Linked DNA regions of Homo sapiens. The protein of the gene in region 2 interacts with the protein of the main gene of each other region in a pairwise test. Each region holds a gene or a part of one and is shown on either strand. Other genes may lie near its edges.

Evidence for each region.
Region 1: the proteins of SERTAD1 (region 2) and CINP interact in binary tests that used the Homo sapiens proteins (3 or more experiments, as listed by UniProt).
Region 3: the proteins of SERTAD1 (region 2) and PBX4 interact in binary tests that used the Homo sapiens proteins (3 or more experiments, as listed by UniProt).
Region 4: the proteins of SERTAD1 (region 2) and KLC4 interact in binary tests that used the Homo sapiens proteins (3 or more experiments, as listed by UniProt).

The regions. Positions count from the first base shown.
Region 1 is NC_000014.9:102,352,712-102,360,611, forward strand, and holds part of CINP (cyclin-dependent kinase 2-interacting protein), read right to left. Parts: intron 6,877-7,900; coding exon 6,708-6,876; intron 6,192-6,707; exon of another isoform or gene 6,088-6,191; intron 3,187-6,087; coding exon 3,057-3,186; intron 1-3,056. UniProt on the Homo sapiens protein: Component of the DNA replication complex, which interacts with two kinases, CDK2 and CDC7, thereby providing a functional and physical link between CDK2 and CDC7 during firing of the origins of replication.
Region 2 is NC_000019.10:40,422,993-40,431,748, forward strand, and holds the start of SERTAD1 (SERTA domain-containing protein 1), read right to left. Parts: upstream 3,001-8,756; 5' UTR 2,875-3,000; intron 555-2,874; coding exon 1-554. UniProt on the Homo sapiens protein: Acts at E2F-responsive promoters as coregulator to integrate signals provided by PHD- and/or bromodomain-containing transcription factors. Stimulates E2F1/TFDP1 transcriptional activity.
Region 3 is NC_000019.10:19,608,284-19,616,183, reverse strand, and holds part of PBX4 (pre-B-cell leukemia transcription factor 4), read left to right. Parts: intron 1-7,900.
Region 4 is NC_000006.12:43,069,123-43,075,985, forward strand, and holds the end of KLC4 (kinesin light chain 4), read left to right. Parts: intron 1-1,231; coding exon 1,232-1,333; intron 1,334-1,569; coding exon 1,570-1,743; intron 1,744-2,152; coding exon 2,153-2,252; intron 2,253-2,444; coding exon 2,445-2,497; intron 2,498-2,729; coding exon 2,730-2,800; intron 2,801-3,024; coding exon 3,025-3,133; intron 3,134-3,701; coding exon 3,702-3,842; intron 3,843-4,100; coding exon 4,101-4,216; intron 4,217-4,779; coding exon 4,780-4,843; intron 4,844-5,210; exon of another isoform or gene 5,211-5,499; coding exon 5,500-5,550; 3' UTR 5,551-5,971; downstream 5,972-6,863.

The DNA.
Region 1 (7,900 bases), on a different chromosome or scaffold from region 2:
GCAGTGGCTTGATCTCGGCTAACTGCAACCTCCGAAAGTGATTCTCCCGCCTCAGCCTCCCAAGTAGCTGGGATTGCAGGCACCTGCCACCACCCCCAGCTAATTTTTTGTATTTTTAGTAGAGATGGGGTTTCACTATGTTGGCCATGCTGGTCTCAAACTCTTGACCTCAGGTGATCCACCTGCCTCGGCCTCCTAGAGTGCTGGGATTACAGGCATGAGCCACTGCGCCTGGCCAAAACAAAAATTAAAAAAAAACAAATAAAAATACAACAATTAGCTGGGTGTGGTGGCAGGCACCTGTAATCCCAGCTACTTGGGAAGCTGAGACAGGAGAATCACTTGAACCCAGGAGGCAGAGGTTGCAGTGGGCAGAGATCACCCCACTGCACTCCAGCCTGGGCAACAAGAGTGAAACTCCATCTCAAAAAAAAAAAAAATTAACAAATGGGAGGGAGGGAACAAATCTCCCACGCAGAATAATTCCAAATAATTTATGTAGATACTGCACCCTCAAGCAGGTGGTGAATACGTCCCTACCCCCAGGTGTGGGCTATGCATAGTGACTTCCTGCCAAAGAGCACAGCGTGGGAGGAGGAGAAAGAGCAACGTCACAGCAGAGGAACCTGGAAACACTGCCCAGCCAGGTGATCAAGGTCAACTTCAGCAGTGGAAAGTCCTGGCTGTGCACAGTGGCTCACGCCTGGAATCCCAGCACTTTGGGAGGCTGAGGTGGGAGCACTGCTTGAGCCCAGGAGTTTGAGACCAGCCCGGGCAATAGGTGGGACCCAAAGAAAAGTCCTGATGACAGTATATCCAGTACGTGCCCTTGATATGACATGATAGAAATGGCACTTTACTTCTGTGGTCCTCCTCTGAACAAAACCCGTAACCTCAGTCTAATTAGGAGAAAAACATCAGATAAATCTCATGATGTTCTACAAAATACCTGACCAGTATCCCTCAACATTGTCAAAGTCATCAAAAACAGGGAAGTCTGAGAAACTGTCACGGCCAAAAGGAGCCTGAGGAAACAAGGGGACTCGATGTCATACAGGATCCTGAAGCCAAAACAAGACATGACGGAAAAGCTAAGGCAGGGCGCCAGGGCTCACACCTGTGATCCCAGCACTTTGGGAGGCCAAGGTGGGAAGATCACTTCATGTCAGGAGTTCGAGACCAGCCTGGCCAACATGAGAACCCCGTCTGTACAAACGAATTTTAAAAATTAGCCGGGCATGATGGTTCATGCTTGTAGTCCCAGCTACTCGGGAGGCTGAGGCAAGAAGATCACTTAAGCCCAGGAAGTAAAGGCTGCAGTGAGCTGTGATCATACTACTGCATTCCACAGCGAGACCTTGTCTCCAAACAAACAAAAAGGTGAAAATATAAAGATCTTAAATGTTTATGGGTAAGCTTCAGTTATCCAAGTTCAAATATGTGTAAAACCTGATTTCCTGTGCCTAGCAAAGAAATAAGGTGGTGTTATCTTCACATCTGGTGGCCAGTATGGTAGGTATTGAAATTTAGTTATTAGTTCATTAAACAAACACTTTAGTCTCTTACGTGCTGTATCAGGGATGGGCAAACTATCCCTGGAACACAGGTCAATTCTGGCCCATAGCCTATTTCTGTATGGCCCATAAGCTAAGATGGTTTTTACATTTTTAAATGGTTGAAAATAACCAAAAGGACAATAGTGATTGTGACTCATAAAAATTATACAAAATTCTAATTTCGGTGTCCAAAGATAAAGATTTCCTGGACGAACATGGTGGCTCACGCCTGTAATCCCAACACTTTGGGAGGCTGAGGTGGGTGGATCACTTGAGGCCAGGACTTCGAGACCAGCCTGGCCAACATGGTGAAACCCCATCTCTACTAAAAATACAACAATTAGCTGGGCATGGTGGCGCACACCTGCGATCCCAGCTATGTGGAAGGTTGAGGCACAAGAATTGCTTGAACCCAGGAGGCGGAGGTTGCAGTGAGCCAAGATCTCGCCACTGCACTCCATCCAGCCTCAGTGGCAGAGTGAGGCCCTGTCTCAAAAAAAACAAAAACAAAAACAAAAAAGGCCAGGTGCGGTGACTCACGCCTGTAATCCCAGCAGTTTGGGAGGCCAAGGCAGGCTGATCACTTGAGGTCAGGAGTTCGAGACCAGCCTGGTCAACATGGTGAAATGCTGTCTCTACTAAAAATACAAAAATTAGCTCATGTGGTGGCACGAGCCTGTAATCCCAGCTACCTGGGAGGCTAAGGCAGCAGAATCACTTGTACCTGGGAGGCGGAGTTTGCAGTGAGCCAAGATCATGCTACTGTACTCCACCCTGGGTATCAGAATGAGACTCCATCTCAAAAAAAAAAAAAAAGAAAATCCAAAAAACAAAGATAAAGTTTTCATGGAATGCAGCCACATCCATTTACGCATATATTATCTATGGCTGTTTAGTCCTATGTGGCAGAGATGAGTAGCTGAGATAGAGACTGGCTGGCCCTGGAAGCCTAAAATATTTACTCTGTGGCTGGGCGTGGTAGCTCATGCCTGTAATCCCAGCCCTTTGGGAGGCCAGCAGGTGGATCACCTGAGGTCAGGAGTTTGAGATCAGCCTGACCAATATGGTGAAACCCTGTCTCAACTAAAAATGCAAAAATTAGCCAGGCATGGTGGCGGACGCCTGTAGTCCCAGCTACTCTGGAGGCTGAGACAGGAGAATCGCTTGAGCCCAGGAGGCGGAGTTTGCGGTGAGCCAAGATCACGCCATTGCACTCCAGCCTGGGCGACAAAGCAAGACTCCATATCATGGAAAAAAAAAAAAAATTTACTATGTGATGAGCCCTGAAAGTGGGTGACATTTCCCCGGATGACGCACAGGAGGAGTGAGTGTCTAAGACAGCATCTTGGGGAACATTAAGGTTTACGCAGCAGGCAGAGGAAGAGAACATCAGAGGAGACTGAGAAGGAGTAAGTGATGGCCAATGGTCAAGCAAACCCCAAATACGTCCATCGGATTCAGTGACAGTGACCACAAGTGGCCTGCGTCTTTATGTCTTACCAACCCATCCAAGGTGGCCTGCAGTTCCTCACACAGCTTCTCCAGTTCCTCGTTATATTCCAGACACACCTTTTCTTCATTTTCCTTCGAGGCTGGGCTGCTGCTGTCTAGTTCTATCTTGTCTTTATTCCTAAACAAAATAGAAAATAATGTGTACAAAATATACTCTTTAAGCTTGCCTTATTTCCTTATAATAAATTCTACAAACCTCTATATCCACATAGTTACGTGGGACATTTTGCATAAGCATTGTTCTTTCATATCATTATGATACAAATGCAGTTATTATTTATATGTGCAATGAATATGTCCATTGGTCACTCAATTTTGCACCAAAATAAGTCAGTTAAATTCAGCCATGTGACAGCCGGTTTTGGTGGCTCATGCCTGTAATCCCAACACTTTGAGGGATGGACGCGGGAGGACTGCTTGAGTCCAGGAGTCTGAGTCCAGCCTGGGCAACACAGTGAGACCTCATCTCCACAAAAATTAAAAGTAAAAATTAGCTGGGCATGGTGGGACACGTATGTGGTCCCAGCTACTTAGGAGGCTCAGGTGGGAGGATCACTTAAGCCCAGGAAGTCAAGGCTGCAGTGAGCCATTATAGCACCACTGCACTCAGCCTGCACAAAAGAGCAAGACTGTCTCAAAAAAAAAAAAAACACCATTCAGCGGTGTGGCATCCTTGGCATAGGGCATGGTGCTGGATGTACAAAGATGAATAAGACATGGATCATTTCCTCAAAGAGTTCACAATCCAGGAATATAGGCACGCCTCATTTTATTGTGCTTCACCTTATTCAGTTTCATAGATAATGCATTTTTTACAAATTGAAGGTTTGTGGCAACCCTCTGTATGTAGAGCAAGTCAATCAGCACCATTTTGCCAACAGCATGTGCTTACTTCATGTCTCTCTATCATATTTTGGTAATTCTTACAATATTTCAAACTTTTTCATTATTATGTCTATGATCTGTGATTGGTAATCTTTGATATTGCTAGTTTAATTGTTTTGAGGTGCCATGAACCATGTGCATATATAACGGCAAGCTTAATGAATGGATGTTGTGTGTTCTGACTGCTCCACTGACCGGCTGCTCCCCTTTCTCCCCATCTCCTTGGGCCTCCCTGTTCCCTGAAATAGGAGGATACTGAAATCAACCCAATTAATAGCCCTACATTGGCCTCTAAGTGTACAAGTGAAAGGAAGAGTTGCATATCTCTCATTTTAAATCAAAAGCTATACTTTGGCCAATTTAAGAAACAAAAAAATTAAAAGCTAGAAATGATTAAGCTTAGTGAGGAAGGCATGTCAAAAGCTCAGATAAGGGGCCAGGTGCGGTGGCTCACGCCTGTAATCCTAGCACTTTGGGAGGCCAAGGCGGGCAGATTGCCTGAGCTCAGGAATTCAAGACCAGCCTGGGCAACATGTGAAACTCCGTCTCTACTAAAATACAAAAGAAATTAGCTGGGCGTGGCGGTGTGCACCTGTAGTCCCAGCTACTTGGGAGGCAAAGGCAGGAGAATTGCTTGAACCCGGGAGGCAGAGGTTGCAGTGAGCCAAGATTGCACCATTGCACTCCAGCCTGAGCGACAGAGCGAGACTCCATCTCTACAAAAAAAAAAAAAAAAAAGCTAAGATAAGCTGAAAACCAGGCCTCTTGTGCCAAACAGTTGGCCAAGTTGTGAAGGCAAAGGAAAAGTTACTGAAGAAAATTAAAGGTGCTACTCCAGTGAACATGTGAATGATGAGTGAAACAGCCTTAGTGTGGATATGGAGAAAGTTTGAGTGGTCTGGATAGAAGATCAAACCAGACACAGCATTCCCTTAAGTCAAAGCCTAATCCACAGCAGGACCCTAACTCTCTTCAATTCTGTGAAGGCTGAGAGATATGAGGAAGTTACAGAAGAAAAGTTTGAGATAGCAGGATTTGGTTCATGAGGTTTAAGGACAAAAGCCATCTCCATAACATAAAAGTGCAAGGTGAAGCTGCAAGCGCTAATGTAGAAGCTGGAGCAAGTTATCCAGAAGATCTACTTAAGATCAGTGATGAAGGTGGCTACATGATACAACAGATTTTCAGTGTAGATGAAACAGCCTTCTATTAGAAGAACATGCCATCCAAGACATTCACAACTACAGAGAAGTCAATGACAGGCTTCAAAGCTTCAAGAGACAGGCTCACCCTCTTATTAGGGGATATTGCAGTTAGTGACTTTAAGTTGAATCCAATGCTCATTTACCATTCTCAAATTCCTAGGGCCCTTAAGAATGATGTTAAATCTACTCTGCCAGTGGAAAAAGCAAGAGAACCAGAACTGGAAGTGGGGTCTGAAGATGGAACTGAATTGCTGCAATCTCATGAGAAAACTTGAACAGATAAGGAATTGTTTCTTATGGATGAGCAAAGAAGGTGGTTTCTTGAGATGGAATCTATTCCTGGGAAAGACACTGTGCACACTGTTGAAATGACAACAAAAGATTGAGAATATTATATAACTTAGTTGATAAACCAGTGTGAGAGGTCTAATGTGGGTAAACACTATTAAACAGCAATGAGAAAGAACAGAACCAGAATAGTGGCTCTACATTACACGCATGGCTTCCATGTTGAAAGACAGTGAGACATGGCTGGGCGCAGTGGCTCATGCCTGTAATACCGGCATTTAGGGAGGCCAAGGTGGGCAGATCACTTGAGGTCAGGAGTTTGAGACTAGCCTGGCCAACATGGTGAAACTCTGTCTCTACTAAACATACAAAAATTAGCCGGGCATGGTGGCAGGTATCTGTAATTCTAGCTACTCAGGAGGCTGAGACAGGAGAACCACTTGAACCTGACAGGCAGAAGTTAGAGTGAGCCAAGATCACGCCATTGCACTCCAGCCTGGGGGATAGAGTGAGACTCGTCTCCAAAAATAAAAAATAAAAAATAGAAAAAGAAAGTGAGATATAAAGGAAACAATAACATATGTTTTTTGTTTACGTAAAATCCAAAAATGGATGAAAAGAATTCATGGTAGTTTTTTCCATATCAGCTAGGTAATGTGCCAACATCATAGCAAAGTTTGAGGAAGGCACAGGTCATACATGAGCATGAAAACCCAATCATTATGCCTATGAACTACAAAAGAATCAAAGAATCTGTGGTTTTAAAAATCAGAATAGCCAGGCACGGTGGCTCACACAGCACTTTGGGAGGCTGAGGCAGGTGGATCACGTAAGGTCAGGAGTTCGAGACCAGCCTAACATGGTGAAAGCCCGTCTCTACTAAAAATACAAAAATTATCTGGGTGTGGTGACGGGCGCCTGTAATCCCAGCTACTCCGGAGGCTGAGGTAGGAGAATTGCTTGAACCCAGGCGGTAGAGGTTGCAGTGAGCTGAGATCGCGCCATCACACTCCAGCCTAGGCAACAGAGTGAGACTTCATCTCCAAAAAAATAAATAAATAAATAACTAAATATATATATATATATATATATATATGGAATATAATTTTGTATTTAAAATGTACAATACAATTTATACTTACACGTATCATCTTACCACTTGCTTTTTTTGCTTAATATTTTATTTTAAAATTTATTCACATTATTTCCCCAGTTATTAAGGGTGAAAAACTTAGAGCATGAAAAACCAATATGTACTTACAATAAACTGATTTTCAAGTTGGCAATATTATTTGCAGTGGTAAAACCTGCATCATTGAGGGTTTCCCACTTCAGGATTAAATTGTGCCAATCAGCCGCATTGTCCTTAATTTTTCTTGCACTGACAGATAAGACAGGTTTTCTGGGCGTTACAGTTCCAAGAGTCTTTGCTGATAGGGTATAAAAGAAACAAAATTATTATCATGGAATATACAATCATAGTTGGAGGGCAAATGTCCTTATAATTTTCAACAGTAAAACTATCTGAAATGCTGTATCAACTGGACAAATAAATGTGGAAACTACAAAGTCTGAATGAATGTGAAAGTTCCTGGAAGAAGACAATATAGAATATTTTTAACATTTTAAAATTCACCAGATAGAGCTGAATCCTCTTCCAGCTTAATGGCTCCACAAAGTTTTTACCTTAAGCCCTTTGTTTTCCAAAGATTGGAAATAAGGTAAAGTTGTGACTGTCTGCTAAAACTCTTCAATGGCTCACGTTCCCTTCCCTACAGGATAATCTAGCCCTGACTCCCGAGTACTTCCACTATCTAGTCTCAGGCACTCTGATACTTTAAATTTGCTCAGAGTAGCGTGGCCCATGAGTGCTAATCATTTCAAGACACTGAGACAACAGAGATGCAGAGTTGATCACGATGCTGCCACTGCCCTTCTTGGTAATCAGGAGGAAGTCCAAAATCCTTCCAGACCTAGCTACCCCTCCACATCATCACGTACATCAACCCACACCTTGGCCCCCCGTCAATATCCAGCGAAAATGAACTACTGGCAGCTCTTGAAAAGCTGAGGTGCCTGCAGGCCTTTACACGTGTTCTCTCTGCAGGAAAGCTCCTTCCTTCCTCAGGCTCACGATGCCCATCCTCCAAGATGCACCCGGATCCCACTGCCTGTAGGAAGCAACCCCCAGACCACCAAGAGCCAACTCAGGTTGTTTGTTCTCCCCGAACCCTCCTGTGCCCTCTTGCCTTCTCTACTTTGAACCCCACAAAGGCTTCTCACTGCCCACAGGATAAAGTCCTCTTGAGGAATCCAGGACACACAACAGCTGGATGGTTTGATGCCTCAAGTCAGAAGACCACACTGCCTGCGTCTGAACCCCAGCTCGCCAGCTGTGAGATCTTGGGCAACTTAATGTACCTTTCAGAGCCTCAACATTTTCATCTGTAAAAT
Region 2 (8,756 bases):
TCATTGTCATACATAGAGGTGTCAATATCCTCAAACAGGCCCTCAAGCCCATCGTCCAGTAGACAGCCAGTGGCTGGGCCCAGCAGGTCCAAGGCACCCAGGCTGGGCGCTGCTCCCCCGATGCTACGGCCTGGTGGCCCCTCGTCTGCCAAGGGTTGGGGAGCCTGACTCAGGCCCTCAATGTGGCTGAGGTCCTCCAGGAGGCTGGCCATGGAGGCTGAAAGGGCAGCGTCCGAGCTTGCCAGTAAGTTGTCAGCCACACTGGGGGCTGCAGGTGGGCTAGGCACAGGTGGCAGGGCAGCCGCGGGTGCCATGGACGCCTGGATGCGCCGCAGAGTGTTCACGACCAGCACCAGGTGCCGCAGGTCCGGCTCACTCTGCTGCAGGCTGTGGTGGAGCTTGAGCACTGAGAGGTCAAAGAGGGAGCTAGAGGCCACGGCCGGGGGTGCCTGTGCCACCGCTGTGTGGCCAGGATCTAGCCACCAGGAGTCGACTGCCAGAGGTTCCTTCTCCTCCTCCTCCTCCCGTTTCCGCTTCAGACCCTTGCTCAGCATCTGCAGAGGGCAGGGAGTTATGGAGTTATAGTCAGTTATAGAAAACAAATGTTAAGTTCAAAGCCTGGATCTGACAGTTGCTGCAGGTAGGATCTTGGGGAAGTCACTTAACCTCTCTGTGCCTAGCTTTTCTTAGGGAACTTTAAAGATATAGACAATTTTTATTTAACTGTATATGTATATTTATAGATTTTTTTTGAGATGGAGTCTCGCTCTGTTGCCCAGGCTGGAGTGTAATGCCGTGATCTCAGCTCATTGCAACCTCTGCCTCACAGGTTCAAATGATTCTCGTGCCTCAGCCTCCCCAAAAGCTAGGATTACAGGCACATGCCACCACACCCGGCTAATTTTTATATTTTTAGAAGAAGCATGGTTTCACCATGTTGGCCAGGCTGGTCTCGACCTCCTGGACCTCAAGTGATCCGCCCACCTCTGCCTCACAAAGTGCTGGGATTACATGCGTGAGCCACCGCGCCTGGCCTATAGACTTCTTAAATTTTAAATTTTATATTTAAGTATATTTATAGACTTTTTTATCTGAAAAAATAAAGATGGGGTCTCACTATATTGCCCAGGCTGGTCTCAAACTCCTGGCCTGAAGCGATCCTCCCCCCTCAGTCAATAAGTACTTTTTTTTTTCCCTTTTATTTTTTTGTAGAGACATGGTCTCACTATGTTGCCCAGGGTGGTCTCAAACTCCTTGCCTCAAGCCATCCTCCTTCCTCAGCCTCCCAAAGTACTGAGATTACAAGTGTGAGCTGCCTCACCCTGCCAATAAGTACACTTAATGATAACATTATTATTTCTTCAGTGAACCATGTGGAATGGCCAATATTCAACTTTTTCCCCTACAAAAGCAGCTGTTTCACATATTTTATTATAATAACATAATTATATCTAAATAAGTTATAATATTATAAATACTAAACTAGTTTCACGTAGTTTAATATTTATTGTCTACTATGACTATGTTTCAAACAGTAAATAAATAAGGAAACACAGGAAATGTACAGAGAATTACAGGAAGACACTAAAAGTTCCTAGAGACCTTTTAGATCATCAGAGAAGGCTCCTGTAAGGAGGTGACATTTGAATGGAGCCCTCAGGCCAGAGAAGTCAGCCATGGGAGACCCTGGGAAAAGCATTCCGGGAGGAGGGAACAACAAAAAAAGGCAGAGAAAAGCCCAGAGGCTGGATGGGCTTGAACTGGAAAGAGACCAGCATGGGTGGCACACAGAGAGTGACATGGTAGGAGACCAGATTGGGGAGCAGCTAGGGGAACGGGCACAAGCCAGGTCACAGAAAGCCACATATGCAGAAGTAGGGAGTTTGGATTTTATCCTGAGTGTGGTGGGCAGTCATTAAAGGAATTTGAGCAGGGAGGGAATGGTGCTGTGAGCTGATTAGGTTTCCGGAAGATCCCCCCCATGGCTGCTTCGAGGAAGACTGTGGGGGGCAAAAAGAGGGGGGATCTGAGACCCACTGGTAGGCTGTACTCGTTTGGGACGGACGATGGTGATGGCCTGGAGTAGGAGCTGGTAGTGGCATGGAAGGAAGTCGGTCGAGTCAGGACTTATTTGGGAGGCAGAATAGACAGGGCTTGTCGGGAAATCGTGATCGGCACCGGGTTCAGTCACTGAGATAAGTTTGAGGGTCCACTGTTCTTGGAGTGGCGGGGGTAGGGCTGGAGTTTTGGACTCCTGGCGCTACCTACTTTTTTGGGCCAGGAAGACTGTAGAGTCCAGTTTCGGAACCCTGCCTAGCAAGATTTTAAGAATGGCCCACCACACTACTCAAAACAGGGTCTTCGTCCCCTTCCCCGCAGTCCGGGGAGTCCGGAACCGCAGGAATTCCGCCCCCACCCCCGACTCCGCCCCCGGGTCCCGGCGCCCCCTAGCGGTGCCCAGGCCGGCTTTCCCCCGGGGATTCTGGCCCCTCTGACCCCAGGACCCCTTCTACTGCCCCGATTCCCGGCTGTGATTCCTGCCGGCCTCCCGGCGCCGTGCGAGCCGGGACCCCTGGCGGGCTGTTCTCTGCGCCCGGCCTCCGCTCGCTTCCGGCAGTGGAGGCGGCTCCTCCCGAAGCGGCGGCGGCGGGGGCGGGTGAGTCACGCAGCCGGAGCCAAGAAGCCGGCGCCTCCGCCCCCTTCTCGGACTGCGGCGTGATTCACCCGGCCCGGCCGGGGCAGACAGCACGTAGAGGTCCGTGCGTCTCGATCCCGGGCAGCCCCGGCGGGCACCTGTCGGACCCAGGGATCGAACTCTGTGAAGGACCCGGCCGCTGGTAGCCCTTCTGTTCCCAGGCCCCTTCATTTACATACCTTGCTCACTAGCGGCCAATCAGAACGAAGAGGTAGCCACCCACAACCAATCAGGAAACGGCGGCGGCAGCATCGCTTGTTGGCTGTCCTCCGGAAACCCGCGCCTGGGTCGCGAGACGCAGTTCTGACTCCGGCTCACGACTCCAGACTCCTAACTACCCTTAGCGACCGCCCACTCTCGTGGCTGCCCCGCCCTCCGCCCCAGGGATTGGCCCTGCATGGTGATGGGCGGAGCTTGTAGGGGGCGGATTCTGAAGGAGGGGCTTCAGGGCGCATGCCCGGGCAGCTGCGCGAGTGAGGGGTGGAAAGAGGTGGCTTTTTACTCCGGGGAACGGTGGCGAGTGGGGGCTTTTGCCTCTCAAAATACGAGCCCCTCACAACTACCCATGCACCTGCCAAACCCGGCAATTAAGCTTCTTACACATCCAGCCCCGACAGGGGTCTACACTACAGATAATGCCCGGGTTCAAATTCCGACTCCGGATTCCCCACTCACTGGATGCGTGACCTTGGAAAAATGATCAACCTCTTCAAGCTACACAAAGTTAAATGGGGATCGTCTTGCCTACCTCTTGACAGGATACTTTAAGTAGGATCGTATCTATAAGAACACAATACCACACTCAAGCAATGCTGGACAGTTGGACTTAATTGTGGTTAAAGGCGGGAGTGAGGTGGGAGTGCGATACCAACGGAATCACATCCCGGGCTCCATTCCCTAAGCAGCTGTGTGACCTGCGGCAAGTGTTTTAATCCCTTCTGGTCTGTTTCTCCTTTAAAATGAGAGAAAATAGCGCCTAGTTTACAGGATTGTTTTTAAGGATTAAATTAATTCATGAAAAATCTTCAGAGTGGGGTGCAACATGTTTTGTGTTTTTTTTTTTTTTTTCATTTTATTTATTTATTTATTTATTTATTTGAGACAGATTCTCACTCCGTCGCCCAGGCTGGAGTGCAGGGGCACGATCTCGGTTCACTGTAACCTCCGCCTCCCAGGTTCAAGCAATTATCCTGCCTCAGCCTCCCGAGTAGCTGGGACTACAGGCGTGCGCCACCACGCCCGGTTAATTTTTGTATTTTTAGTAGAGATGGGGTTTCACCATGTTAGCCAGGCAGGTCTCAAACTCCTCACCTCAGGTGATCCGCCCTCCTCGGCCCCTGAGTGTTGGGATTACAGGCGTGAGCTACCGCGCCCAGCTGCTTATTATTTTTTTCTTTACTTTTTATTTTATTTTATTTTGCTTTTGAGACAGGGTCTCGCTCTGTCACCCAGGCTGAAGTGCAGGGGTGCCATCTCGGCTCACTGCAGCCTCCCAGGTTCAAGCCATCCTCCTGCCTCAGACCCCCAAGCAGCTGGGACTACAGGCGCACACCACCATGCCTGGTTAGCAACGTTGTTTCTTTGTTAGTAGTAATAGCTGTTGTAATAAGACAAGCTCTTAGTTCAAGGTGGATAGACATGCAGGATGGGGCTAGAGGTAGACAGGGTATAATACTCCTCCCATGGCCGGATGCAGTGGCTCACGCCTGAATACTCTCTCACCTAGATTTAATTGATAGTTGTTAGCTAGGCAACAACTGTAATCCAGTACTTTGGGAGGCCAAGGCAGGAGGGTCACTTGAGTCCAGGAGTTCACTTGAGTCCAGCCTGGGCAACACAGTGAGATCTCATCACTACAAAAAAATTTAAGAATTAGCCAGGCGTGGGCCGGGCGTGGTGGCTCACGCCTGTAATCTCAGCATTTTGGGAGGCCGAGGTGGGCAGATCACGAGGTCAGGAGTTCGAGACCAGCCTGGCCAACATGGTAAAACCCTGTCTCTACTAAAAATACAAAAAATCAGCCAGGTGTGGTGGCAGGCGCCTGTAATCCCAGCTACTCAGGAGGCTGAGGCAGGAGAATAGCTTGAACCCAGGAGGCAGAGGTTGCAGTGATCCAAGACAGCGCCACTGCACTCCAGACTGGGCAACAGAGCAAGACTCTGTCTCAAAAAAAAAAAAAAAAAAGGATTAGCCAGGCGTGGTAGCATGTTCTTGTGGTCCCAGCTGCTTGTGGGGCTAAGGTGGGAGGATTCCTTGAGCCCAGGAGGTCAAGGCTGCAGTGAGCCATGTTCATGCCGCTGCACTCTAGTCTGAGTAACAGAACAAGACCCTGTATCAAAAAAAAAAAAAAAGAAAAAAGTAGTAGTTGGTAACATTGTGCTAAGTTCCCTTTATCTACATATGTGTATATATTGTTTCTTTTGCTAAACCTTTGGAGAGTAATTGCAAGCATCTTGATATTCTACCCTTAACAGCTCAGGAGGCATCTCTTAAGAATAAGGACATTAGGCCCTGTGCGTTGGCTCACACCTGTAATCCCAGCACTTTGGGAGGCTAAGGCGAGTGGATCACCGGAGGTCAGGAGTTCGAGACCAGGCTAACCAATATGATGAAACCCCGTCTCTACTAATAATACAAAAATTAGCCGGGCATGGTGGCATGTGCCTGTAATCCCAGCTACTCAGGAGGCTGAGACAGGAGAATTGCTTGAACCCAGGAGGTGGAGGTTGCAGTGAGCTGAGATTGCGTCATTGCACTCCAGCCTGGGCAACAAGAGCAAACTCCACCTAAAAAAAAAAAAGAATAAGGACATTCATGTACAAGCCACAAAAATACTATTTCACATCTAATAGAATCAAGAATTCCACAATATCACCTAATCAAATCTCTCCAACTGACCCAAGAATATCCTTTATAGTTGCTTTCTTTTCTCCAAAATCAGGATCCAATGAAGGTTCACATGCTAATTTGGTTGTAATGAAGAAATTACATACTATATTTTATTCTCGAATATTCCCCCACCCAAATCCCTTTTTTTTTTTTTTTTTTTTTTGAGACAGAGTCTTGCTCTGTCGCCCAGGCTGGAGTGCAGTGGCATGATCTTGGCTCACTGCAACCTCCATTTCCGGGTTAAAGTGATTCTCCTGCCTCAGCCTCCCGAGTAGCTGGGATTATTGGCGTGCGCCACCACGCCTGGCTAATTTTCTTGTGTTTTTAGTAGAGACAGGGTTTCGCCATGTTGGCCAGGCTGGTCTCAAACTCCTGACCTCAGGTGATCCACCCGCTTTGGCCTCCCAAAGTGCTGGGATTACAGGCATGAGCCACCACACTCAGCCTCAAATCCTTTTTGATGTTTTGTTGACATTGAATTTCTGGCAAAACAGACTAGTCATGCTGCATAGTGTCCCACATTCTGGATTTGTCTGACTGTGTTTAATTTGTTCCTCTCTTTTTCCAATAAGCTGGAGGTTGGGTCTAGGGGCCTGGTGAGATTCTGCTTATGCAGTGAACAGGGAGACTCCACAGGGTGTGTCCTAATCCTTATTAATGTACTTCCTAATCCTAACGCATTATAGTAGTTGGCACCAGTGTCAGGATGTCCCACCATTGGTAATGCAGAGTTTCATCACGTGATTAAGATTGTGAGGGTTACATCGTAAAATAAATTTATCCTTTCTAGTTAGCAAATAACCTTTGGGATGATGCTTTAGAGCCTGTGAAGATCCTATCTCCAAGATGTATGTGGTGGCTCATGCCTGTAATGCTGGCACTTTGGGAGGCCAAGGCGGGAACTTAAGCCCAGGAGGTTTTGTGATTTTTTTTTTTTTTTTTTTGAGACGGAGTCTCACTTTGTCGCCCAGGCTGGAGTGCAGTGGCACGATCTCGGCTCACTGCAAGCTCCGCCTCCTGGGTTCATGCCATTCTCCTGCCTCAGCCTCCTGAATAGCTGGGACTACAGGTGCCCGCCACCTCGCCCGGCTAATTTTTTTTCCTTTTTTTTTTTTTTGTATTTTTAGTAGAGACGGGGTTTCACCATGTTAGCCAGGATGGTCTCAATCTCCTGACCTCGTGATCCGCCCGCCTTTGCCTCCCAAAGTGCTGGGATTACAGGCGTGAGCCACCGCACTTGGCCAGTTTTTTTTTTTTTTTTTTTTTTTTTTGAGATGGAGTCTTGCTCTGTCGCCCAGGCTGGTGTGTAATGGCGTGGTCTTGGCTCACTTCAACTTCCGCCTCCCGGGTTCAAGGATTCTCCTGCCTCAGCCTCCTGAGTAGCTAGGATACAGGTGCATGCCACTATGCCTGGCTAATTTTTGTATGTTTAGTAGAGACAGGGTTTCACCATGTTAGCCAGGCTGGCCTCAAACTCCTGACCTCAGGTGATCTGCCCACTTTGGCCTCCCAAAGTGCTGGGATTACAGGCATGAGCCACCTTGGCCTCCCAAAGTGCTGGGATTACAGGCGTGAGCCACCACATCTGGCTTTTTTTTTTTGGGGGGGGGGATGGAGTCTCTGTCACCCAGGCTGGAGTGCAGTAGCACAATCTCAGCTCACTGCAACCTCCGCCTCCCGCGTTGAACTATTCTCCTGCCTCAGCCTCCTGGGTAGCTGGGATTATAGGCGTGCACCACCATGCCTGGCTAATTTTTGTATTTTCAGTAGAGACGGGGTTTCAACATGTTGGTCAGGCTGGTATCGAACTCCACCCACCTCGCCCTCCCAAAGTGCTGGGATTACAGGCATGAGCCACTGTGCCTGGCCAGAGCCCAGGAGTTTGAGACTAGCCTGGGCAACACAGCAAGACCCAATCTCCACAAAATACTGGTTTTTGTTTATGTTTTGTTTGTTTTTGAGACGGAGTCTCGCTCTGTCGCCAGGCTAGAGTGCAGTGGCACTATCTACAGAATACTGTTTTTAAAAACTTATCCTAGCATGGTGGCATGCACCTGCAGTCCCAGCTTCTTGGGAGGTTGAGGTGGATCACTTGAGCCCAGGAGTTTGAGGCTGCAGTGAGCCATGATTGCACTAGTGCACGCCAGCCTGGGTGAAAGAGTGAGACCCCAAAAGATCCTGTTTTCCACTAACTTTTCACCCAACTGTTTGAGCATTCATTGACAATTGCTGCCTGAATTAACTACCATAGTTAGCATTTTTGAGAACTTACTTTGGCCAGGAGCTTTATTCAAAACTAAAAGCTCTTCCCACAGCTCAGGAATTAACAAATGAGCTACTTGAAGAAGGTTAAGTCTCATTGCCAGTTTATGGGACGAGTATTTTTTTTTTTTTTTTTGAGACGGAGTTTCGCTCTTGTTGCCCAGGCTGGAGTGCAATGGCACAGTTTTGGCTCACCACAGCCTCTGTCTCCTGGGTTCAAGAAATTGTCCTGCCTCAGCCTCCCGAGTAGCTGCGATTACAGGCATGCACCACCACGCCTGACCAATTTTGTATTTTTAGTAGAGACGGGGTTTCTCCCTGTTGGTCAGGCTGGTCTTGAACTTCTGACCTCAGGTGATCCGCCTGCCTCGGCCTCCCAAAGTGCTGGGATTACAGGCATAAGCCACCATGCCCGGTCCACGCCTGGCTCTTAAATTTTTTTGTAGTGATGAGATCTTACCATGTTGCCCAGGCTGATCTTGAACTCCTGGACTCAAGTGACCCTCTTGCCTTGGCCTCACAAAGTACTGGGATTATAGTTGTTCCCTGTCCAACAACTATCAAATAAATCTAGGTGAGATAGTATTCAGATGCTCAGAATACTTTTTTTCCCCATCTTTTCTATGTGCTTGAATTTTTAATAATAAAATTAAGGTAAGATGCTAATTAGAACCAGGCCCCCACTAGGCAAATTCACATTTTCTGCCCTCCAGAATCCATTTTTATGGCTGGCAAAAGGGACGCCTGGACCTGGAGTCTCCCAGTGGCTTACTCCAGGTCATACACTGAAGGAAAAGGAAATTTTCCTTCATGCTTGTAGTTTCAGCTGCTTCAGAGGCTGAGGTGGGAGGATCGCTTGAACCTGGGAGACAGAGGTTGCAGTGAGCCAGGATCAGGCTGCTGCTGCGCT
Region 3 (7,900 bases), about 21 Mb from region 2:
TTCACAAGGCAGCCCACTGTGTCTGGGTCCTGCAGTGATTATTACAGAAAAGGAAAGGAAAGGACTGAAGTCCTTTTGGAGGATGAGGCCTTGTTGAATGGGGACTGTTGTAAGGTGAGGGACGGTCTCTGGGTATGGGACTAGGGTCTGGTGGTGTGGACTGTGTACCCACTAGAGCCCTGTAGTGGGGAGGGGTTACAAAGCCAGGTAAACAGCAGTCCTAGGAAGGAAGAGGCAGATAAAAAGGTGGATAATGCATGCATTTGTTCTTCAATGAATTGTGTGTGTGTGTGTGTGACGGACTCTCACTCTGTTGCCCAGGCTGGAGTGCAGTGGCGCTATCTCGGCTCACTGCAACCTCTGCCTCCCGGGTTCAAGCGATTCTCCTGCCTCAGCTTCCTGAGTAGCCGGGACTACAGGCATACGCCCCATGCGTGGCTAGTTTTGTATTTTTAGTAGAGATGGGGTTTCACCGTGTTGGCCAGGCTGGTCACAAATTCCTGACCTTAGGTGATCTGCCTACCTCAGCCTCCCAAAGTGCTGGGATTACAGGCGTGAACTACTGTGCCTGGCCTGTTCTTCAATGAATTTTTAACAAATTTGGCCGATATTTATCGGACCTTTACAATATCTGGGTACTGAACTGGGTTCTGGCATAGCTCTCAAGTTCTTCCTGCTCTCAAGTTCATGGTTTGGGGAGAGAAAGTAAATTTGTTCTTCAAACTTTCTTTCCTTTGCTTCTCAGGGAATGTTGACACTTTTTGTAGTTTCAGATGCTCTGTTTGAGAAATTAGAGTCCTTGTCACCATACAACTATTTCTTTGGCTTTTTTTTTTTTATATAAGGCCGCGCTCTGTCACCCAGGCTAGAGTGCAGTAGTGTCATCATGACTCACTGCAGCCTCAACCTTCTGGGCCCAAGCAATCTTCACACCTCAGCTTCTTGAGTAGCTAGGACCACAGGCCTGTGCCACCACGCCTGGCTAATCTTTCTTTTTTTTTTTTTTTTTTTTTTTTTTGGAGACAGGGTCTCACTCTGTCACCCAGACTGGAGTGCAGTGGTGCAGTCTCAGCTCACTGCAACCTCTGCCTCCCAGGCTCAAGCAATTCTCCTGCCTCAGCCTCCTGAGTAGCTGGGATTACAGGCGTGTGCCACTACCGCCTGGCTAATTTTTTTTTGTATTTTTAGTAGAGACAGGGTTTCACCGTATTGGCTAGGCTGGTGTTGAACTCCTGACCTCAAATGATCCACCCACCTCGGCCTCCCAAAGTGCTGGGATTACAGCCCTGAGCCACCACACCTGGACTAATCTTTCTATTTTTTTAGGTCTCCCTATGTTGGCCAGGCTGGTCTCAAACTCCTGAGTTAAGAAATCCTCCCGCCTCAGCCTTCCAAAGGTCGAGGATTTCAAACATGAGCCACTGAGCCTGGCTCCTCCAACTGTTTTCATTGTGGTTTTTTGTTTGTTTGTTTGTTTTTGTTTGTTTGTTTGGCTGTTTTTTGGTTTGGTTTGGGTTTTTTTGAGACGGAGTCTCATACTCTGTTGTCCAGGCTGGAGTGCAGTGGCGCGATCAGGCTGGAGTGCAGTGGCGCGATCTCGGCTAGTGAGCAACCTCCGCCTCCCGGGTTCAAGTGATTCTCCCATCTCAGTTTCCCAAGTAGCTGGGATTACAGGTGTGCACCACCACACCTGGCTAGTTTTTTGTATTTTTAATAGAGATGGGGTTTCACCATGTTGGCCAGGCTGGTCTCAAACTCCCGACCTCAGATGATCTACCCGCCTTGGCCTCTCAAAGTGTTGGGATTACAGGCGTGAGCCACTGCGCCGGGCCATGTTTGTTTGTTTGTTTTTGAGACAGGGTCTTATTCTGTCACCCAGGCTGGAGTGCTGTGGTATGATCTCAACTCACTACAACCTCTGCTTCCCAGGTTCAAGTGATTCTCCAGCCTCAGTCTCCCAAGTAGCTGGGACTACAGCCTCAAACCACCAATGAATGGCTGGCTAATTTTTGTATTTTTTGTGGAGATGGGGTTTCACCATGTTGTCCAGGCTGGTCTTGAACTCCTGAGCTCAAGTGATTCACCCATCTTGGCCTCCCAGAGTGCTGGGATGACAGACGTGAACCAGTGTTTTTATTCTTTTTGGAGCATTGTACCAGGTGCTAGAGAAACCAAGATGGCTAAGATGTTCTCTGCCTTCTTGGAGCCCACTGAGAAGTAGGGTGTGTGGGAGACCAACTTGTAAATAATTGTTATAACAGGAATGTGCTGTGTAGAGGTAATTCCTAGCACAGAAGAGCTGTGCCAGGAGAGGGTGCCTTCCGTGATGTCTGTTAGGCTAGTCGGAGAGCAGTGGCTTTATTATACTTTGTGTTCCCAGAGCCAGGATCAATGCCTAGCACCTTGCATTCAGTAGTTTCATGACACTGAGGAGATTCTAGAGGGATTAGTAGGAGTTGGGAAAGGGGGAAGATGGTTTTGACACACCCAGGAATGTCACCGCAGAGGCAGAGCTTTGGGTGTGTCCTGGAAGCTACTTTTGTACTTTCCAGACCGGGATATTGCTGCTTAAGGGGTGAGCTCTGCTCAGATGTGGCCTTCCTCAGGCCCAGCACAGCCCCAGGGCTGCTGCATTTTCCTTGCAGCAATCTCCTGAGATTCTAGTTTCCCTAGACAGGCTTTAGATTTAGAATGGAATGCAGCCAGTTACTTTTTTTTTTTTTTTTTTTTTTTTTTTTGAGACAGAGTCTCGCTCTGGCGTGTTCTTGGCTCACTGCAACTTCTGCCTCCTGGGTTCAAGAGATTCTCCTGCCTCAGCCTCCCGAGTAGCTAAGATTACAGGCGCCTGCCACCACGCCCGGCTAATTTTGGTATTTTTTTAGTAGAGACGGGGTTTTGCCATGTTGGCCAGGCTGCTCTCAAACTCCTGACCTCAGGTGATCCTCCCACCTCGGCCTCCCAAAGTGCTGGGATTACAGGCATAAACCACCACGCCCTGCCAGCCAGTTACTTCTTTACCATTTTCAAAGATAGCTCTTTTTGTTTTAAGGCTAAGAAATTAGGCTGGGTGCAGTGGCTCACGCCTGTAATCCCAGCACTTTGGGAGGCCGAGGCAGGAGGATCACCTGAGCTCAGGACTTCGAGACCAGCCTGTGCAACGTGGAGAAACCCCACCTCTACTAAAAATACAAAAATTAGCTGGGCATGATGATGCCCACCTGTAGTATGTGTCAGCTACTGAGGAGGCTGAGGCAGGAGAACCGATTGAACCCTGGAGACGGAGGTTGCAGTGAGCCGAGATCGTGCCACTGCACTCCAGCCTGGATGACAGAGAAAAAAAAAAAAGAAATTAAATGGTGTGGTGGGGGGCGTTATTCATGCTTGATAACACAGGTGTTAGGTAGCTGGTTCCTGGTTTCTGGCCTCTTTCTGAATTGGGATGACCCCCGGGGCTTTTATTTCGAGACTTTGAAGCTTCAAATCTCCCTCATTTCTTTGGACCTAGCCTTTAGATGAACTCAAAGCCCTAAAGTTCACTCAAGTCCAGACAAAAATCATCCATCCTCAAATGGGCTATTTCCACCCCTCTGGAGGAAATACAGCTCCTCACAGTAAACCCTGCAGCCTGGTAGATTACCAACCTGGGCTGGGAAGCAGATTGTCTCTTCTGATCAACTGATCCTGTGAGGCTTTTGAAAATCTTTCTGATCCTGCCCACTCTCAATGTGCCAGTCACCCCTTTTATCACCCCAGCAGTCAGTTGAACTCAACTGTTTAGCAAGAAGGAATTTTTCATCTCAGTCGTGAGGCCCTCTGAACATGTTTTGTTGCCGTAAGTTTGTTTTCAGAAGGAAAATATAGCTCTCTCTTCAAACCTGGGTTTTTTGTTTTGTTTTGTTTTTTTCTTGAGACAGAGTCTCACTCTGTTGCCCTCGCTGGGATACAGTGGTGCGATCTCAGTTCACTGCAACCCTCGTCTCATGGGTTCAAGCAATTCTGCCTCAGCCTCCCGAGTAGTTGGGATTACAGGTGTGTACAGGTATGCACCACCATGCCCGGCTTAATTTTTGTATTTTTAGTAGAGACACAGTTTCACCATGTTGGCCAAGCTGGTCTAGAACTCCTGGCTTCAGGTGATCTGCCTGCCTCAGCCTCCCAAAGTGCAGGGATTACAGGCATGAGCCACTGTGCCTGGCCTTAACATTTTTTTGTAGATACAGAGTCTCACTATGTTGCCCAGGCTGGTTTTGAACTCCTGGGCTCAAGCTGTCCTCCTGCCTCAGCCTCCCAAAATGCTGGGACTACAGTCATGAGCCATCCCACCCATTCTAAATGCTCACTGTTATAATGTTTTAGGAGCAAGCAGTGTGGTGTGTGAGATGGCATACCTAAAACCAAAAATGTATTTGGAAGTTGGTTTTAGGCAACCCAGCAATGCCTGCATAGGTTTTCTTAGGAAGAAAACATATCTCTGAACTTTTCTTTCTTTTTTTTTTTTTTTTTTTGAGACAGAATCTCACCCTGTCACCCAGGCTGGAATGCAGTGGCATGATCTCGGCTCACTGCAACCTCTGCCCCCTGGGTTCAAGTGATTCTCCTGCCTCAGCCTCCCAAGTAGCTGGGATTACAGGCACCTGCCATTGCACCAGGCTATTTTTTGTATTTTTAGTAGAGACGGGGTTTCACCATCTTGGCCAGGCTGGTCTTGAACTCCTGACCTCATGATCTGCCCGCCTCGGCCTCCCAAAGTGCTGGGATTACAGGTGTGAGCCACCATGCCCGGCCTTCTCTTTTTAATTTGATTTTTACTATTATGACCTCAACTAGTAGAGATTTGCATAACTTTCTTAGTCCCTCCAATATTTCTGCAGATTGACTTTGCCTAGATATGGATTAAATTCCTATTATGAAGGGGAGATAATGAAGTGATTTTGACTATCCTTTAAACTTACTGAAGAGGCAAGGTGTGAACTGATACCTGAAATGTGTTCCCCTAGGCTTGGTACTTTTGCAATAGTGAATATAAGGTCAGAACACATATACTTATAAAGTATGTATACTTATGTATGTTCTGACCTTATATTCATACATAGTTATAAAGCATGTCAGTGAGCATTCAGCCTTCCGCACACCCATTCAAAGAATGCAAGGGTTCTAGGGGGAATTTATGATGTGGAATTTCCCAGAGCCAGATAGCATTAGCATGAGAGGATCTATCAGTCCAAACCTGGGAAGTAGGATTTCATATTTAAAATTTTCTTTTTCAGTATCCCTAAAGAGATTAATTAGATGCCAGTTGACTTCGTGCCTTGTAGTCTTTCTTCTTAGCTTGCTTGCAGGCTTAGCTTGACTTGGTCTAGTGCCAGAGGAGTCTTGCTGTCTTTGGTGTACTTTTCCTAAGAGTTGAATTGTGTTGGTTTTTGTTGTTTGACACAGAGTCTTGCTCTATCACCCAGGCTGGAGTGCAGTGGCGTAATCTCGGCTCACTGCAACCTCCACCTCCCAAGTTCAAGTGATTCTCATGCCTCAGCCTCCTGATTAGCTAGGATTACATGCATGCGCCAGCCACCACACCCGGCTAATTTTCATATTTTTAGTTGAAACGAGGTTTCACCATGTTGGGCAGGCTGGTCTTGAACTCCTGACCTCAAATGATTATCCCGCCTCGGATTCCCCAAAGTGCTGAGATTACAGGTGTGAGCCACTTTGCCCAGCTTGAATTGTGTTGTTTTTATTTTTTTGTAAGTTTTTTAAATTTTTTATTGTTTTCGAGATGGAGTTTCACTCTTGTTACCCAGGCTGGAGTGCAATGGCACAATCTCTGCTCACCGCAACCTCCACCTCCCGGGTTCAAACAATTCTCCTGCCTCAGCCTTCCGAGTAGCTGGGATTCCAGGCACGTGCCACCACACCCAGCTAATTTTGTATTTTCAGTAGAGACGAGGTTTCTCCATGTTGTTCAGGCTGGTCTCGAACTCCCAACCTCAGGTGATCCGCCCGTCTCAGCCTCCCAAAGTGGTGGGATTACAGACGTGAGCCACCGTGCCTGGCAAATTGTGTTAGTTTTAAAACAATTCCCTGAAGCTATCTAAAAGTCTTTTGGCAAAATCCCCTTTGAAATAGCTTTATTAATGAAAAGTAAAGCCATGTGTAGAATTTCACAAAGGAGCAAGTACCACTCACTCATTTAAATGACAGCTACCGAGTGCCTCTATCAGAACACAGTGGTTGATGATGATGACAATAAGGATTTCCCTCATTTACCCCTCCCCAGAACCCTAGGAAGTGGGTGGTTTTTCACTGTTTGTTTTTCTTTCTTTCTTTAGTTTTTTTGAGACGGAGTCTCGCTGTGTCGCCCAGGCTGGAGTGTGGTGGCGCAATCTCGGCTCACTGCAAGCTCCGCCCCCCGGGTTCACGCCATTCTCCTGCCTCAGCCTCCCGAGTAGCTGGGAATACAGGCACCCGCCACCACGCCCGGCTAATTTTTTTGTATTTTTAGTAGAGACCGGGTTTCACCGTGTGAGCCAGGATGGTCTCGATCTCCTGAGCTCGTGATCTGCCCTCCTCGGCCTGCCAAAGTGCTGGGATTACAGGCGTGAATCACTGCGCCTGGCTCTTTTTTTTTTTTTTTTTTCATATGGATTTTTGCTCTTGTTGCCCAGGCTGGAGTGCAATGGCGCGATTTCGGCTCACCACAACTTCCGCCTCCCGGGTTCAAGCGATTCTCCTGCCTCAGCCTCCCAAGTAGCTGGGATTACAGGCATGCACCACCACGCCTGGCTAATTTTGTATTTTTAGTAGAGACGGGGTTTCTCCATGTTGGTCAGGCTGGTCTCCAACTCCTGACCTCAGGTGATCCACCCGCCTCAGCCTCCCAAAGTGCTGGGATTACAGGTGTGAGCTACTGCGCCTGGCTCTTCACTGTGTTTCTAGATAAGGAATCAAGTGGCCAGATAACTGGAGGGTAGTTGGATGGAGATTTGGGCATGCTCTATTGAACTCTGAGGCTGTACTGCCTGCCACCTGTCTCTGCTTTTCCCAGGGATCCTACAAAACTCACTTAAATCTGACATCGCTTCCTGCTCAGAGGAGCCCAGCTGATTGGGTGCCGTGGGAGATCAGACAGTCAGGCTCGGGCTTTACAGGACACTTTTAAAAGTACATTCTCGCAAATTAAATGTCATCTACTCAATAAACATGTATTTTGTGCCAGGTCTGGTGCTGGGCTTGGGAATGCAGCAGTGAGTTCTGAAAGGAGATTCATTATTTGGAGAGGCAGACATTGGAGAGTGCGGTGACACGGGGACCAGAGAGGGCAATGAGGAGTTAGCCCTTCAGCAAGACTAGAGCTTGTAGAGCATGGGCAATCAGAGTGCATGACTCTGGAGTCTAGGTGAAGTCAGGCGGGGGACAAGGAGCCTTGAGGAGATGGCCAAGATCTGGACTTGAGGCTTTGCCTAGGCAAAGAAAGTGGATGCGGCATTGTAGGCTTGGTGCAAGCATGCATGCAAGGCAGGCGTGGAGCATGAAGGCATGCATTGTGGTCCCATCGGGCATGAGTGGTGGGCGTGACCTTGGAAGGGAGACTCGGGGGTGACTGCCTGCCTCAGCTGCTGTCCGACCAAGCATGGCCTTGAACTCCTTGCCAGGTAAGGAGTGAGCACGCGGTTTGTTCCAGACTTGTACAGTGTAAGTACTTTGCAAAGTATTCTGACCTTTCTAAGGTATTTGTCCTGGTTTGTTTTGTTCTGTTTTGTTTTGTTTTGTTTTTGAGACGGAGTCTCACTCTGTTGCCCAGGTGGGAGTTCAGTTTTCTTTCCTTTTTTTTTTTTTTGAGACAGGGTCTCACTTGCCTAGACTGGAGTGCAGTGGCACGATCTTGGCTCACCACAACCTCCGC
Region 4 (6,863 bases), on a different chromosome or scaffold from region 2:
ATAAATAAATATAAATAAAAGGAAAGAGAGAAACAACCTTAAGTAGAGATATCACGCCAAGGCAAATGATAGAGTTGTCAATGTACAGAAAATGAAAAATGAAAAGTTTGTTTGTTTTGTTTTGTTTTGTTTTGTTTTTTGAGATGGAGTTTCGCAGTGTCACCCAGCCTATAGTGCAGTGGTACAATCTGGGTTCACTGTAATCTCTGCCTCCCAGGCTCAAGTGATCCTCCTGCCTCAGCCTCCCAAGTAGCTGGGATTACAGGTACGTGCTACCACGCCAGGCTAATTTTTGTATTTTTAGTAGAGATGGGTTTTCACCATGTTGGTCAGGCTGGTCTTGAACTCCTGACCTCAAGTGATCCACCTACCTCAGCCTTCCAAACTGCTGGGATTACAGGTGTGAGCCACCACACCCAGCTGAAAAGTTATTTATTTTTTGTTGAGATAGAGTTTCACTCTTGTTGCCAGGCTAGAGTGCAACATGGCACGATCTTGGCTCACTACAACCTCCACCTCCCGGGTTCAAGCAATTCTCCTGCCTCAGCCTCCCGAGTAGCTGGGATTACAGACATGCCACTACGCCTGGCTAATTTTGTACTTTTAGTAGAGACGGGGTTTCTCCATGTTGGTCAGGCTGGTCTCGAACTCCTGACCTCAGGTGATCCGCCCACCTCGGCCTCCCAAAGTGCTGGGATTACAGGCGTGAGCCACTGCGTCCAGCCAAAAAGCTATTTTTGAATGTGATCTGTGTGAAAATAATTCCCTATGGTATGACATATGATAGGCAGGGATGATGTATCTCAGAAATCATACTCCTGTCTTGATATCCCATCAAATATCAATGTTTACATTTAGCGTTTGGATGTCTGGCAGGACATTAAAAAATTGGCAGAGCTGTCCCACACATGCAGAACATCTATAGCGTTCTTGCCTCCTCAAAGGTAATCTTCATGGTGACAACAACAACAACAAAAAAAAAAAAAAAAGAAAGAAAAAAAACACCTCCAGAAATTTCTTAAAATCCCCTAGAGGGCGATACTGTCCCTTAGCCTCAGAGCCATCCTGTTCAGCAATTTCCCCTCCCTTCAGCCCCTGGCTCCAGGGTAGTAGACTTTGTCTCTTAGAGTTGTGCAGTGAGTGTTGGGCCCTGCTGGGAGGTGGGGAACCTCAGATTCCCATAGGTCTTTTGCAACCCAAATGTCTGATGGGGACAGGCCTGTCTTCATAGGTGGCTGCCACACTCAACAATTTGGCTGTGCTCTATGGCAAAAGGGGCAAGTACAAGGAGGCAGAGCCTCTGTGCCAGCGGGCACTGGAGATTCGAGAAAAGGTACCCATGCCCTCTCTCCCTTCTTCTCTTGTCGCTGTGACCCTTCTCTACATGGCTCCTCTGGTCTAACCCTCCTCCTTCACTTTTTTTTTCTCACCCCCATCTCTGCTTTGTTCTCTCTTCCTTCATTCCCTTTCCTCTGCTTTCCACATGTGTGTGCCTACATGCAAACACACGTGTGCTTGTGCACACACATGTTATCATAGCCATTTATCCACTCCTTTGTTCCCTTTCAGGTCCTGGGCACGAATCATCCAGATGTGGCAAAACAGCTGAACAACCTGGCCCTCTTGTGCCAAAACCAGGGCAAGTATGAGGCCGTGGAACGCTACTACCAGCGAGCACTGGCCATCTACGAGGGGCAGCTGGGGCCGGACAACCCTAATGTAGCCCGGACCAAGAACAACCTGGTATGGGAGGAGGGACAAAGTAGGTGGAAGAAACGGAGAGGGGGGCACAGAGGTGGGGGGAGGGGGGGCAGGCGGAGAGGCCACTTGGGTCCTAGAGTCAGGAAGCATCACAGTCTGGCACACTGCTCTCATCAACTTTGTGCTCATGTCTGGGGCTGCCTTTGCGGATGAAGGATCTGCTTCATTCCAGTTATAGAAGTTCCACAGCTTCTTGGGAGTGGGCTGGGAATACCCTTGACCCTACACCTGGAGAAGGAGGTGTGAGAAAGATCTCTGGGGAAAGTGAGAGAGACACTGAGAAGTGGAACTCCCTGAGCCTGGTGAAGACCTTGTCTAAAAAAAAAAAAAAAAAAAAGACCTTGCCTCCCTCCATGTTTTGTTCCTGTATTTTTGCCTTTCTGTCCTCCAGGCTTCCTGTTACCTGAAACAGGGCAAATATGCTGAGGCTGAGACACTATACAAAGAGATCCTGACCCGTGCCCATGTACAGGAGTTTGGGTCTGTGGATGGTGAGTGGTGAGGGCCTGGGGAAGGGGCTGTGGGGAAGAAAAGAAATTCAGACCAAAGGTCGGGGGTTAGGCCACAGCGGTTCCCAGGGGGAGCCAGACCCCTTCAGTCCAGCCTGTCAGCCTCTGGGTCCTGGCTCTCCGACACTGTCTAGCTCCCATCTCTAACCTCCCCACCCCATGTATCACCCCTAGATGACCACAAGCCCATCTGGATGCATGCAGAGGAGCGGGAGGAAATGAGCAAAGTGAGTGGGGGGAAGGGGGGCCAGCCTGGGGAGCTCAAGGCTACCGGGGTCTCTGTCTTACTCCTTGCATTAGCCCAACTCTCACTTCCCATCCCAGCACCAGCCCCAGATGCATGGTGTCCTCCCCAGCCCAGCCTGCACCCTAGCCCCATGCCACCTTGCATCTCAGCATCTCTGTATTCTTATATTTGGCTCTCCCTGCCCTTCTTTCTGGCCTCTCTCTGTCCTGCAGAGCCGGCACCATGAGGGTGGGACACCCTATGCTGAGTATGGAGGCTGGTACAAGGCCTGCAAAGTGAGCAGGTGAGCTGACAGTGAAAAGCCAGCTTGGCCTCCGATGCCCTCCATCCAGTCCCTGCTCCCAGCCTCCCAGACCTTTTCCCTTCCTCCCGTAGACTTTCCCTCAGCTTTAGCTCTGTTCCCTCTCCTATTTTCTTATTTTTTTTCCTCTTGTCTTGCTTGGAAGACAAATGTTTTGTTTTCTGAACTCATTCTCTCTTCCTTCTCTGGTCTCTTTCTCACCACAGCCCCACAGTGAACACTACTCTGAGAAACCTGGGAGCTCTGTATAGGCGCCAGGGAAAGCTGGAGGCTGCTGAGACCCTGGAGGAATGTGCCCTGCGGTCCCGGAGACAGGTCAGAAGCCCAGAGGGGAAGGAGGTCCTAGAGGGAAGGGCCCTGGGGATGAGAGAGTGCCGAGGTTTCTTGGGAGTCTCCTAAGAATAAGCGGAAAGGCTGATGAAGCCAGGAGGGAGAGGAAAGTGAGGCAGTGTTGTGATTGTGGTTGTTTTTAAGCATGTTCTTACCCCCCACCTGCATTTTGTGGTCAGGACTCTAGTTTCAAGATTCACTAAATGGGGATATGAAGGAGAAACCCTGCCCTTTCATAAGGAGGGGACCTGGGTGGTATGGGTGAGAGGAGTGAGGTTGGGGAGAGCCTAAATCAAGAATTTCTTAGATTGTGGGTCTCAATAGTAGGTTGTGAAATCAATTCAGTATGGGCCATGGGGATAAAAATATATACAGATCTATATATAGCAATGCATTGCAAATAGAAAAGGTAAGTATTATTCCAGTAGGTATAAACTGAGACATCACAAGGAAAAATGTTTTCCTTCCAGTGGCTGATGGTGAAAAAAATTTGAAAGCCCCATCCTGAGGAGTTAAGGAGTAGGAAGTCCCAGGTCCTTCCTTTTCCTTCCAGGGCACTGACCCTATCAGCCAGACGAAGGTGGCAGAGCTGCTTGGGGAGAGTGATGGTAGAAGGACCTCCCAGGAGGGCCCTGGAGACAGTGTGAAATTCGAGGGAGGTGAAGATGCTTCTGTGGCTGTGGAGTGGTCCGGGGTAAGTCTGATCATTGCCTTTTCATCTCTCCTGCCCACTCCTGCTGGTGGTGGTGAGAGGCTCTTGGCCATGCTGTCCCAGTCTAGGTAGTGTATTCCTTCAGGGGTATCTCTGGGAGCCAGTTTTTGACAGGACTTTTATTTCCAGTCACTGGGCCTTGGGGGTGGGGGATGTGTGCAGAATAAATGCTAGGAGTAGACTCAGAAACCCATCTGTGTGGGATCCTTGTAGCTTTCATTGCTCACTCCTTTCTGCCAGGATGGCAGTGGGACCCTGCAGAGGAGTGGCTCTCTTGGCAAGATCCGGGATGTGCTCCGCAGAAGCAGTGAACTCTTGGTGAGGAAGCTCCAGGGGACTGAGCCTCGGCCCTCCAGGTATACATGGAAGTCAAGATACAGTAAAGTGGCCGGGTGCAGTGGCTCACGCCTGTAATCCCAGCACTTTGGGAGGCCGAGGCGGGTGGATCACCTGAGGTCAGGAGTTTGAGACCAGCCTGGCCAACAAGGTGAAACTCTCTCCTAAAAATACAAAAATTAGTCGGGTGTGGTGGCAGGTGCCTGTAATCTCAGCTACTTGGGAGGCTGAGGCAGGAGAATTGCTGGAACCCAGGAGGCAGAGGTTGCAGGGAGCCAAGATCATGCCATTGCACTCCAGCCCAGGCGACAACAGCGAGACTCCGTCTCAAAAAAAAAAAGAAAAAAAAAAAAGATATGGTAAAGCAGGCAAGTAAAGTAAGCCCTTGCCTCCAACTCCTCTTGGCTCCTGATCTCTGGAGAAGTATCTCGGAGAGAAACAGGGAGGAAGTCAACGGGCCAGCCATGGAGAGAGAGTTTGGGTAGAATGGGTGCCCCAGTGTGGCAGTGCTCAAGAGGCCCACAGCCTTAAGGCCACTCAGGAGGAAGAGAGGAGGCCTCAATTCTTCCGTTTTCCATTGTAGCAGCAACATGAAGCGAGCAGCCTCCTTGAACTATCTGAACCAACCTAGTGCAGCACCCCTCCAGGTGAGAGCAGTGCTTGTGAGCATATTGGTGGGTGAGGAAAAAAGGACAGCCAGTGAGCAAGCCCAGTGGAGTAAGGGAAGAGGGAAGGGAGAGGAGTCATCTGGGATGAAGATGAGCCAGGGGATTGCAGTCATTAAGGAATCAGGCAGATAGCTTGTGGTGAGTGCTGACCACCAAGGGACAGTTTCAGGCCAGACATAGTAGCAAATAAGTTAATAAGGAGGGAAATAGGAATATTCTGTAAACTGGTACTTTGGAATTATGAATAATTTAAGAATTATTTGGAGATACGAATTATTTTTTCATCCTGCAGCCGCCTTAGTAGTAGATGAGAATGGAAAAAGAAAAGTATTAAATAATCCCCATCTGAGAAAACACTAGTGATATTTTAATGGCAAATGACTTCTTGTATCAACACACAAGTATATGCCAGTATTCATGTGGTTCTTCCAGGTAGCTTCTCCACCAGATTGTGGCCTTCTGGAAAACCCTAGCAGAGGCTAAACAAAGTCCCAGGTCCAGAGATAGACTGGTCCAGAGACAGATGTGATCCTAGGTCCAGAGATACACTGTGACCATGGGATGGATGGACTCTAGGAGCCAGTCTTTGGGAGGCCGAGGTCCCTGAGCTGATGGGGTAGTGTTGTCTGTTTCAGGTCTCCCGGGGCCTCAGTGCCAGCACCATGGACCTCTCTTCAAGCAGCTGACATTCAACCCGGCCCCCAGGTCTGCTGGGTCCCCCCACCCCCACAGCCCTCACAGCATTCCCCATTGCTCCTGGCTCTTCCCCACCCCTAGGTGGGACAGTGAAGGGGAGCAGTTTAACCAGAAGATTGCTGCTGCCCTTAGGGTCTCAGCTCCCTCCTCAGGAATCCCTCTTAGGAAGGACCCTCAGGACACCCTCTCTGCACCCTGTGGTCCTCTAGAGTAGCTAGCTCTGAGGCCCCAAGGTGGGTACAAAGCAGGTATGGCCCTCAGAGATGCAGCCTGCTGCTGGCTTTTCAGTCAGAGGGTTGGGGGCTGGCCAGCCAAGCTGCCTTGCCCTGGCCGCTCTTACTCCCTCCCTCTGCTGTCTCACTTCAGGTCCATGTATTTCACTTTTCTTAAATAAAAGAATCAGGTAACCTTTCTGTGACTTGAGTCCTGATTGAAGAGGGTATGAAGCAGGGCTTGTGTTGGGGCCCTTCACAGAAGGTGAGGGGCAGTGATGGATGGAGCAGCAGGAGGAGTGTTGATTCTTGGATCTCTCCTCTCTTCCTCCCGTTGTTTGTATCATCTCCAGCAGGGCCTGTAGGAAGGCATCTGGGGGATGGGGAAGAAGGAGGCTCACAACCCAAGGAGAAGGTGCTGTGGACTGGGTTGTCAGGGACATGTGGTGGCCATGTGGCAGGACCCTGGAGTCCTGGCGCCACTTCTCCTGGCTGTGAGGCCCTCTGTGGCTGCCATTCCTCCTCCCAGCTGCTTGGGGGAAGGGAGGTCTAAACAGGCCTGGGGGGCCCTCCGGAACCAGAGGGGAGACAAGGCACTATCCATCCCCTCTCAGCATATCTTGGAGGCCTGAGCAGCAGCTGGGGCCCATCTTCTAAAGCTTGACTCCTCCTGACCCGCCTCCTACACCCCTTGCTGCTTTCACAACAAAGAAAGAATGTGGGGGTGGTGGCGCTGGGGGTGGGGGTGCCTGGAACAAGGGTTGTGCTGGGCCTCCCCACAGCTGGAGACTTGGCCATACCCTGACACAGCCCAGACTGCCTGGAGATGGACTTGGGATGAATTTGTCAGTTAGCAGACTTCAGCCTGGCTTTCAGAGCCCAGCGTGTTTCTACCTTTGGGTTCAGATTGGTCTACAGCCAAACCAGACCCCAGTCATGCACACTTCAGCCCCTCTCCGGGCTACACAGCATCTTCAGGTTACTTGGGGACATTAAGGACACCCTGCTGTTCTGGGTCTGCCGTTAAGATTTTGGGTTGCTGAAGAGTTGGCGGGGCCCGCCTCTTCCCCTGCCCCCACCTGGAGAATTCT